Regions from separate parts of the Homo sapiens genome. Here all the other regions are linked to region 1. Evidence: fine-mapped expression QTL. A gene starts in region 1. Each other region holds a variant in brackets. All regions are shown on one strand. Distances are from middle to middle.

What was found.
Region 2: its variant is fine-mapped to the expression of KIF5C in whole blood (TOPMed, PIP above 0.99).
Region 3: its variant is fine-mapped to the expression of KIF5C in spleen (GTEx, PIP 0.99).

Annotation. Positions count from the first base shown.
Region 1 is chr2:148,873,670-148,876,426 of GRCh38, forward strand. It overlaps KIF5C (kinesin family member 5C), which reads left to right and starts at 1,558. Exons shown (of 26, transcript NM_004522.3): 1 at 1,558-2,074. The coding sequence starts at 1,949. It overlaps KIF5C-AS1 (KIF5C antisense RNA 1), which reads right to left. Exons shown (of 4, transcript XR_001739733.2): 4 at 1-2,526. RefSeq lists a silencer at 1,382-1,851 and an enhancer at 2,224-2,757.
Region 2 is chr2:148,974,966-148,977,722 of GRCh38, forward strand. All of the region lies in intron 12 of KIF5C (kinesin family member 5C), which reads left to right. Among named protein-coding and RNA genes, the nearest start is that of LYPD6B, 62 kb to the right of the region's middle. The variant G/A (reference allele first, on the strand shown) is at 1,336.
Region 3 is chr2:149,641,190-149,643,946 of GRCh38, forward strand. All of the region lies in intron 1 of MMADHC-DT (MMADHC divergent transcript), which reads left to right. Among named protein-coding and RNA genes, the nearest start is that of MMADHC, 55 kb to the left of the region's middle. The variant G/A (reference allele first, on the strand shown) is at 1,196.

The sequences.
Region 1 (2,757 bases):
CTCCCTTGAAAAGGGTTCACTTAATAAATCTAAGTTTACAGAGTGACAGCAAATGCCATTTGCTCAGTTAATAGCTGATGAATGAACAGATGAACGAATGAATGATGACTGAACACAGTGACACACAGATACGTCTCTGTCCACTTGAGATAATCCTGACCTCCTCAGATAAACCAGTGTATGCAAGGTTCTGGGCATCTTCTGGTGGGCTCAGGGAAACTGAGAATTGGATTGTCCTCTCTAGTATATTATGAAGTTGATCATTTAAGATGATGGGTCTCTGAGCCAGAGCCTGAGAATTACTTAATTTAAAAACAGATGAGAAGGTGGCACCTGGGTCTTTTTAATCTACTTCCACTGCACATGAGGAGATGAAATAGAACTGGTACTACTTACAAGGGTTTATAAAAGTTGATTTTAGTAGGTCTGTCCTCTCAGCTAGGCAGAGAACACTTGTATTTTCAGGTATTACCCGAATTTAAGCAACAGATGTGTTCCTAAAATTAACTAACTTATTTGTTTTATGATCATTTGTTCAGCACCCAATAACATCTAACTTTCAAGAGCTTATCCTATATACATGTCAGGCACCGTGCTAGGTGCTTTAAAAGCATCTGTCTTTTAATTCCCCCAGAAATCACAAGATGATATTATTCCAATGACAGAGATGAGGAAACTGAGTCTTAAGGAAATTAAGACTTCTTAATTTCCTCCGCTCTTAATTTCCTCCGCCTGTTGGTCATACATCTAATAAGTGGCTGAGGTGGGATTCACACTCATGCATTGCTTCTTCCTAGGGTAGAATCCTTATTCAGTATGCTGCCCACTATGTGCTAGATGCTACAGACACAAAGATATCAAGCAGATATCACCACCCAAGTGCAGTGCTAGAGACAGGCACAGCAGATTAGGGGAACATCAAGGAGGGCCACCAACTCTTTATAGGTGTTTAGTGAGCTGGGAAAGTCTGAGGAAGGAGGGTTGAGCTAGGTCTTAGAGGAAAAGGAAGTTCTGGAAAAATAGAGTGGACACTCAGTTGTTCTGCCAGCCCGGCACCATGTCTGGGAATACCATCCCTCTTCTTTTGGGAACCTTCCCACCAAGGGATTCCTCCATAATCTTACAAAATCCCTGATTCTGGTTGATTGGTTTAGCACTAGATGCCAACCTAAACCAAGGCCAATCAAACCCAAACTCTGAACAGACATCCATCCTTATCTAGTGGTAGAAGTTGAAGGATGAAACCCAGGGGCTATTGGGAGCTGTTTCCCAAGTGATTTTCTTTTGGGATCAGGATGATCCAGACCCAGTTATCTAGAGATTTTAACCGGAAATATTGGATATGACCTCCATCCGGTTCCGGCTTGGGCAGCCAGACCGGACTTGCAGGCTCTTGGAGGTCGCATCCTGTCCTTCCCCCGGCAGGTAGAGTGACTACAAGTCCCGGGATGCGCAGCGCTCGGAGTCGGGCGGGGGCCGGGCGGACCTCTACGGTGACGTCACCGTCCCGGGGCGGGCCAGGGGAGGGCGGGGCGGAGGGGCGGGTCTCAAGGCGGCAGAGCGCGCTGGTGCTGATGCAGGATGGCTGAGCGCGCAGGAGCCCGGGAGGTCTGAGCCGGGCGAGGCTCGCTCCCTGCGCATCGCCTCCTCCGCCCGCCGCGTGGTCGCGGGCAGGTGGGCCGGGGGGCGCTGGGCAGGGGCGGGGCAGGGCCAGGGCAGGCCGGTCTGCAGCCGGAGGGGCCGGAGCGGAGAAGCTGCCCACCTTCCCGGGCTCGGAGCGGCCGGGGCTGCTCAGCCGGCCGGGCTCGCGATGACCTGCTGAGAAGCGTCGTCGGAGGCTGCAGGAGGCGGCCTAGCTGTGGGCGGTGCAGCTCGCGGCCTCCTCCCTCGTCGTTCCCGGCCCCGGCCCCCCACCCATCCCCGTGCCCCCTCCCTACCGCCGGCCGAGATGGCGGATCCAGCCGAATGCAGCATCAAAGTGATGTGCCGGTTCCGGCCCCTCAACGAAGCGGAGATCCTCCGCGGGGACAAATTCATCCCCAAATTTAAAGGCGATGAGACCGTGGTGATCGGGGTAAGTGGCTGGGGCGTCTGCCTTCCCTGCTGCTCCGCGCCGCAGCTGGGCGCCCCGACGCCCCAGACGCAGCGGAGGTGTTTAGGCCGCCCCCTCGGACATTCCCGCGGGGCTGGCCTCTCGGGTGGACCTGACCAGAGACCCCTCGCCCCGCGCACTATGGTTCCCTCCCGGGCGGGTGGAGAGGCGGCCGGGAGCGGCGGGCCGGGCGGGGGTGGCGGGGGTGGGGATGGGGGGCGAAGACGGGCTCGGCGCCGCCATTGTTCGCCGGGTGGGGGCCCGGGTGGGCCCATTGTTCCCCACGCTCGCCTCGCCGCGTGGGTAGTGTGTTCGGGTGACCCTCAAGCCGGGTGCCCAGGCCCCCTTTAAAGTGTGAGCTCTGCAACCCGCAAATGCTTCTGGGCATCAATCAATTCGATTTACCAAACGCCTTGCCTCTTCTTCTCACGACCCTAGCAAAAAAGAAAGAAAAAGGGGTACAGGAAAATTTCTAGTCGCGTCTCGGAGCTCCCGCGGCAGTGTAGACGCGGCTCCCCGCGGTGTTACACCTGGCTCCGCGCGCGGAAGGCGGAGGGTTGGGGGAGTACTGGTGGCCTCGGTGTCCCCTGGAGGCCTGGTGTGTCTCCCGCTTCCTCTCACGCCTGGCTGCCCTGGATGTGGAGTCCCGGCTTGATCCCTCCCCT
Region 2 (2,757 bases), 100 kb after region 1:
GTGATTAGGACAGAGAGATGAAAATGCCATGTCCAAAGCATTCAGTTGGTAGCTGAAGAGCTGGCTTGAGAGTCTCCGTCTCCTGATGGTCAGCCTAGGCCATTTTGTTATGTCATTTTCCTACAGCATGTGCTTTGAAGATTCTGTAAGGCCCGCTGTTGGAGGCTAGTATTTGTGGTCCCTCACATGATGATGCTGAGAGACGTGGGAGAGGACTGAGCCTAGAAGCCTCAGCCTTAGGGGGCACCAGAGCTAATGGTTTGCCCTCAGTGACCCTTCCCAAAGACTGCCTGATTATGTCTTACCAACTGTCATTCTTAGGGGTCCTCCTCTGAAATGTTCTAGGAGGCACTTCCATGTTTCTGTTGATGTAGGTGGTTTGACGCTTGAAGAATACATGAGGTGGGATATGGCACCTTCTTAGTCTACTGAAAGGTAGAACAGGAGGTATTTAGGTTTGGGTGAGGCACTAGCCCAGGGTGGTTATGTGACTTACCCAAGTGTATATCACATATAGGTGGCAGAGCTAGGATGAAGTTACATATCTTCTGACTCCCACCCCAGTGCTCATCTCATTTTGCCCTCAGCCCTTTAAATGAGGACCTGGTCAACCTCAGTGAATCTATTTAGGGTGTGGAGGGAGAAAGACCACACGGTTTCCTCCCAGCTGTCCCTTCTGTTCCTCCGTGCTGCCCCGCCAGGGCTCCAAGCACAGGTACTCTCCCAAGGCTATGCTGTGTGATGGGAGAGCATGCACTGTGGACTCAGACCTGTAACAATGACACTGAGACCTGGGCAGACCTGTGACAATAATGCTGAGTCCTGGGCTGGCGCCTGGCCCTGCTGAAGGTGCTTTTTCTCATCTGTATCATGGGGCTTATATCTGTTAATTCAAAAGGCTGTGGTGAGGATTAAAAGTTTCTAGTACATTGCAGGTGCCCAGTAAATATTAGCTTCCTTCTTTCTCCTGGGCTGGGCTGGGCTCTGCTTACTTCCGTGTGTGGTGTGGAAGGGGTGGTGCCAAGGGGGCCACCAGCAGAGACACAATGTGAACAAGTTGGCGCTGGCACTCCTTGTCTCTTAGTCTCTGTCCCTCTACAGTACTGCTCTGCTCTTGGAGATCCTGACACGAACCAAGCTTAAGTAGAAATGAAAGTTGATTATTTTTATGCAGATTACCATTGCAATAAAAACATTTTTATACTTAAAGGTGAACAGTGACCTGTTGACAACTGAGGTTGACCAGTTTCTCATTTATAAGGGTGTGCATATTATTTTGTTTTATTTATTTATTTATTTATTTATTTATTTATTTATTTTTTGAGATGGAGTCTC[G/A]CTCTGTCACTCAGGCTGGAGTCCAGTGGTGCGACCTCAGTGCACTGCAACCTCTGCCTCCTGGGTTCAAGCAATTCTCCTGCCTCAGCCTCCTGAGTAGCTGGGACTACAGGCGCACACCACCACGCCTGGCTAATTTTTGTATTTTTAGTAGAGATGGGGCTTCACCATCTTGGCCAGGATGGTCTTGATTTCCTGACCTCGTGATCCACCTGCCTCGGCCTCCCAAAGTGCTGGGATTTCAGGCCTGAGCCACCACGCCTGGCCGCATGTTATTTTTTTTTTAATTTTTGAGATGGGGTCTTGTTCTGTTGCGCAGACTAGAGTGCAGTGGTGAAATCACAACTCACTGCAGCTTCAACCTTCCAGGCTCAAGCCATCCACCTGCCTCAGCCTCCTGAGTAGCTGGTACTACAGGCACATACCACCACACTCAGCTAATTTTTTTTTTTGTATGTTTTGTAGAGACGGAGATTTGCCATGTTGCTCAGGCTGGTCTCGGACTCCTGGGCTCAAGTGATCAAGCTGCCTTGGCCTCCCAAAGTGCTGGGATTATAGGCGTGAGCCACTGTAACTGGCCTTATGTTATTTCATGTATAAGAAAATTCAAGTATAAAATACTTTCTGAAAAGTGCTTTAAAATCTGTTATCCATGGACAAGATCTTTAGAACCGGCATCAGAGTGAGCGTGCTTATGCATGTTCTAAGAGATGCAGTTGAATGTGTAGATATAAGCACACCTTATTATTCTGGAGGTTTTGAAAGACTTTAAAAAAAATCACAGTAGAGCTCATTAATTCCTTAGATAAGTTGCCTTAATAAAGGGTAAATATAGTTTGGGAAATGTCTCTGATACAAGTGATCCACGTCTTCTGTAGTATCATCCTTGTTCTTCATCCTTCCCAGGTGGGGCCAGGGGCCCTTGGTTTTTCACTGTACCTTAAAAATCACTGCATCCCAGCTTGTCATCTGTTGGGAGGAAGCCTGCATCTTCAGGCTTTGAAATGAGCACAGCGTAAGGACAGAGTTCACTCCATTTCTCTCCTCTTGTGGTTTATATCACTTGTAGTGCTTGTCCATTTGTCCCAGGAGAAGAGATGGTGGCTCTCCGATGGTAAATTCTTTGAATCCTTTATGCTAAGTTGTCTAATATTTAAGTGCTCAGGAACATAAACACAAAATCGTTACTGGTAACTGACGTGCTAAGTTTATAAAGTAGAAGAGAAAATATATCTACAAAATAGTCTTCTAGTTGTAGAAGTGCCAGTTTTTGGAGGTTTCATTCTGGTATAATTTCCCTAATATGATTTGTGCAGGAAAATAGAACCATTAAAGAAACATTGGTGTAAAGGGTTCAGTAGAAACAGGATCTCTTTAAGTAGAAAAGCAAAGCCAAATGATGGTCTACATAAAGGACAAGGA
Region 3 (2,757 bases), 770 kb after region 1:
TGAGTTTCTTAATCCTGAGTTCTTGTTTGATTGCACTGTGGTCTGAGAGACAGTTTGTTATAATTTTTGTTCTTTTACATTTGCTGAGGAGAGCTTTACTTCCAAGTATGTGGTCAATTTTGGAATAGGTGTGGTGTGGTGCTGAAAAGAATGTATATTTTGTGGATTTGGGGTGGAGAGTTCTGTAGATGTCTATTAGGTCTGCTTGGTGCAGAGCTGAGTTCAATTCCTGGATATCCTTGTTAACTTTCTGTCTCGTTGATCTGTCTAACTTTGGCAGTGGGGTGTCAAAGTCTGCCATTATTATTGTGTGGGAGTCTAAGTCTCTTTGTAGGTCTCTAAGGACTTGCTTTATGAATCTGGGTGCTCCTGTATTGCATGCATATATATTTAGGGTAGTTAGCTCTTCTTGTTGAATTGATCCCTTTACCATTATGTAATGGCCTTCTTTGTCTCTTTTGATCTTTGTTGGTTTAAAGTCTGTTTTATCAGAGACTAGGATTGCAACCCCTGCCTTTTTTTGTTTTCCATTTGCTTGGTAGATCTTCCTCTCTCCTTTTATTTTTGAGCCTATGTGTGTCTCTGCATGTGAGATGGGTTTTCTGAATACAGCGCACTGATGGGTCTAGAATCTTTATCCAATTTGCCAGTCTATGTCTTTTAATTGGAGCATTTAGCCCGTTTACATTTAAGGTTAACATTGTTATGTATGAATTTGATCCTGTCATTATTATGTTAGCTGGTTATTTTGCTCGTCAGTTGATGCAGTTTCCTCCTAGCCTCGATGGTCTTTACAATTTGGCATGTTTTTGCAGTGGCTGGTACCAGTTGTTCCTTTCCATGTTTAGTGCTTCCTTCAGGAGCTCTTTTAAGGCAGGCCTGGTGGTGACAAAATCTCTCAGCATTTGCTTGTGTGTAAAGTATTTTATTTCTCCTTCACTTATGAAGCTTAGTTTGGCTGGATATGAAATTCTGGGTTGAAAATTCTTTTCTCTAATAATATTGAATATTGGCCCCCACTATCTTCTGGCTTTTAGAGTTTCTGCCAAGAGATCAGCTGTTAGTCTGATGGGCTTCCCTTTGTGGGTAACCCGACCTTTCTCTCTGGCTGCTCTTAACATTTTTTCCTTCATTTCAACTTTGGTGAATCTGACAATTATGTGTCTTGGAGTTGCTCTTCTCAAGGAGTATCTTT[G/A]TGGTGTTCTCTGTATTTCCTGAATCTGAATGTTGGCCTGCCTTGCTAGATTGGGGAAGTTCTCCTGGATAATATCCTGCAGAGTGTTTTCCAACTTGGTTCCATTCTCCCCGTCACTTTCAAGTACACCAGTCAGATGTAGATTTGGTCTTTTCACATAGTCCCATGTTTCTTGGAGGCTTTGTTCGTTTCTTTCTATCCTTTTTTCTCTTAACTTCTCTTCTTGCTTCATTTCATTCATTTCATCTTCCATCACTGATACCCTTTCTTCCAGTTGATCGAAGTGGCAACTGAGGCTTGTGTATTCGTCACGTTGTTCTTGTGCCATGGTTTTCAGCTCCATCAGGTCCTTTAATGACTTCTCTGCATGGGTTATTCTAGTTAGCCATTCATCTAATCTTTTTTCAATGTTTTTAACTTCTTTGCCATGGGTTCGAACTTCCTCCTTTAGCTCAGAGTAGTTTGATCGTCTGAAGCCTTCTTCTTTCAACTCGTCAAAGTCATTCTCTGTCCAGCTTTGTTCCATTGCTGGTGAGGAGCTGCATTCCTTTGGAGGAGGAGAGGTGCTCTGATTTTTAGAATTTTCAGTTTTTCTGCTATGTTTTTTCCCCATCTTTGTGGTTTTGTCTACCTTTGGTCTTTGATGATGGTGACGTACAGATGGGGTTTTAGTGTGGATGTCCTTTCTGTTTGTTTTCCTTCTAACAGTCAGGACCCTCAGCTGCAGGTCTATTGGAGTTTTCTGGAGGTCCACTCCAGACCCTTTTTGCCTGGGTATCAGCAGCAGAGGCTGCAGAACAGCGGATATTAGTGAAAAGCAAATGTTGCTGTCTGATCGTTCCTGTGGAAGTTTTGTCTCAGAGGAGTACCCGGCCGTGTGAGGTGTCAGTCTGCCCCTACTCGGGGGTGCCTCCCAGTTAGGCTACTCAGGGGTCAGGGACCCACTTGAGGAGGCAGTCTGTCTGTTCTCAGATCTCAAGCTGTGTGCTGGGAGAACCACTACTCTCTTCAAAGCTGTCAGACAGGGACATTTAAGTCTGCAGAGGTTTCTGCTGCCTTTTGTTGGGCTATGCCCTGCCCCCAGAGGTGGAGTCTACAGAGACAGGCAGGCCTTGAGCTGCAGTGGGCTCCACCCAGTTCGAGCTTCCTGGCTGCTTTGTTTACCTACAATGGTGGGCTCCCCTCCCCCAGCCTTGCTGCTGCCTTGCAGTTTGATCTCAGACTGCTGTGCTAGCAATGAGCGAGGCTCCATGGGCGTAGGACCCTCCGAGCCAGGTGGGATACAATCTTCTAGTTTGCTGTTTGCTAGGACCATTGGAAAAGCACAGTATTAGGGTGGGAGTGACCCGATTTTCCAGGTGCTGTCTGTCACCCCTTTCCTTGGCTAGGAAAGGGAATTCCCTGACCCCTTGCGCTTCCTGGGTGAGGTGATGCCTTGCCCTGCTTCGGCTCATGCTCAGTGCACTGCACCCACTGTCTTGCACCCACTGTCCGACAATCCCCAGTGTGATGAACCCGGTACCTCAGTTGGAAATGCAGAAATCATTCATCTTCTGAGTCAC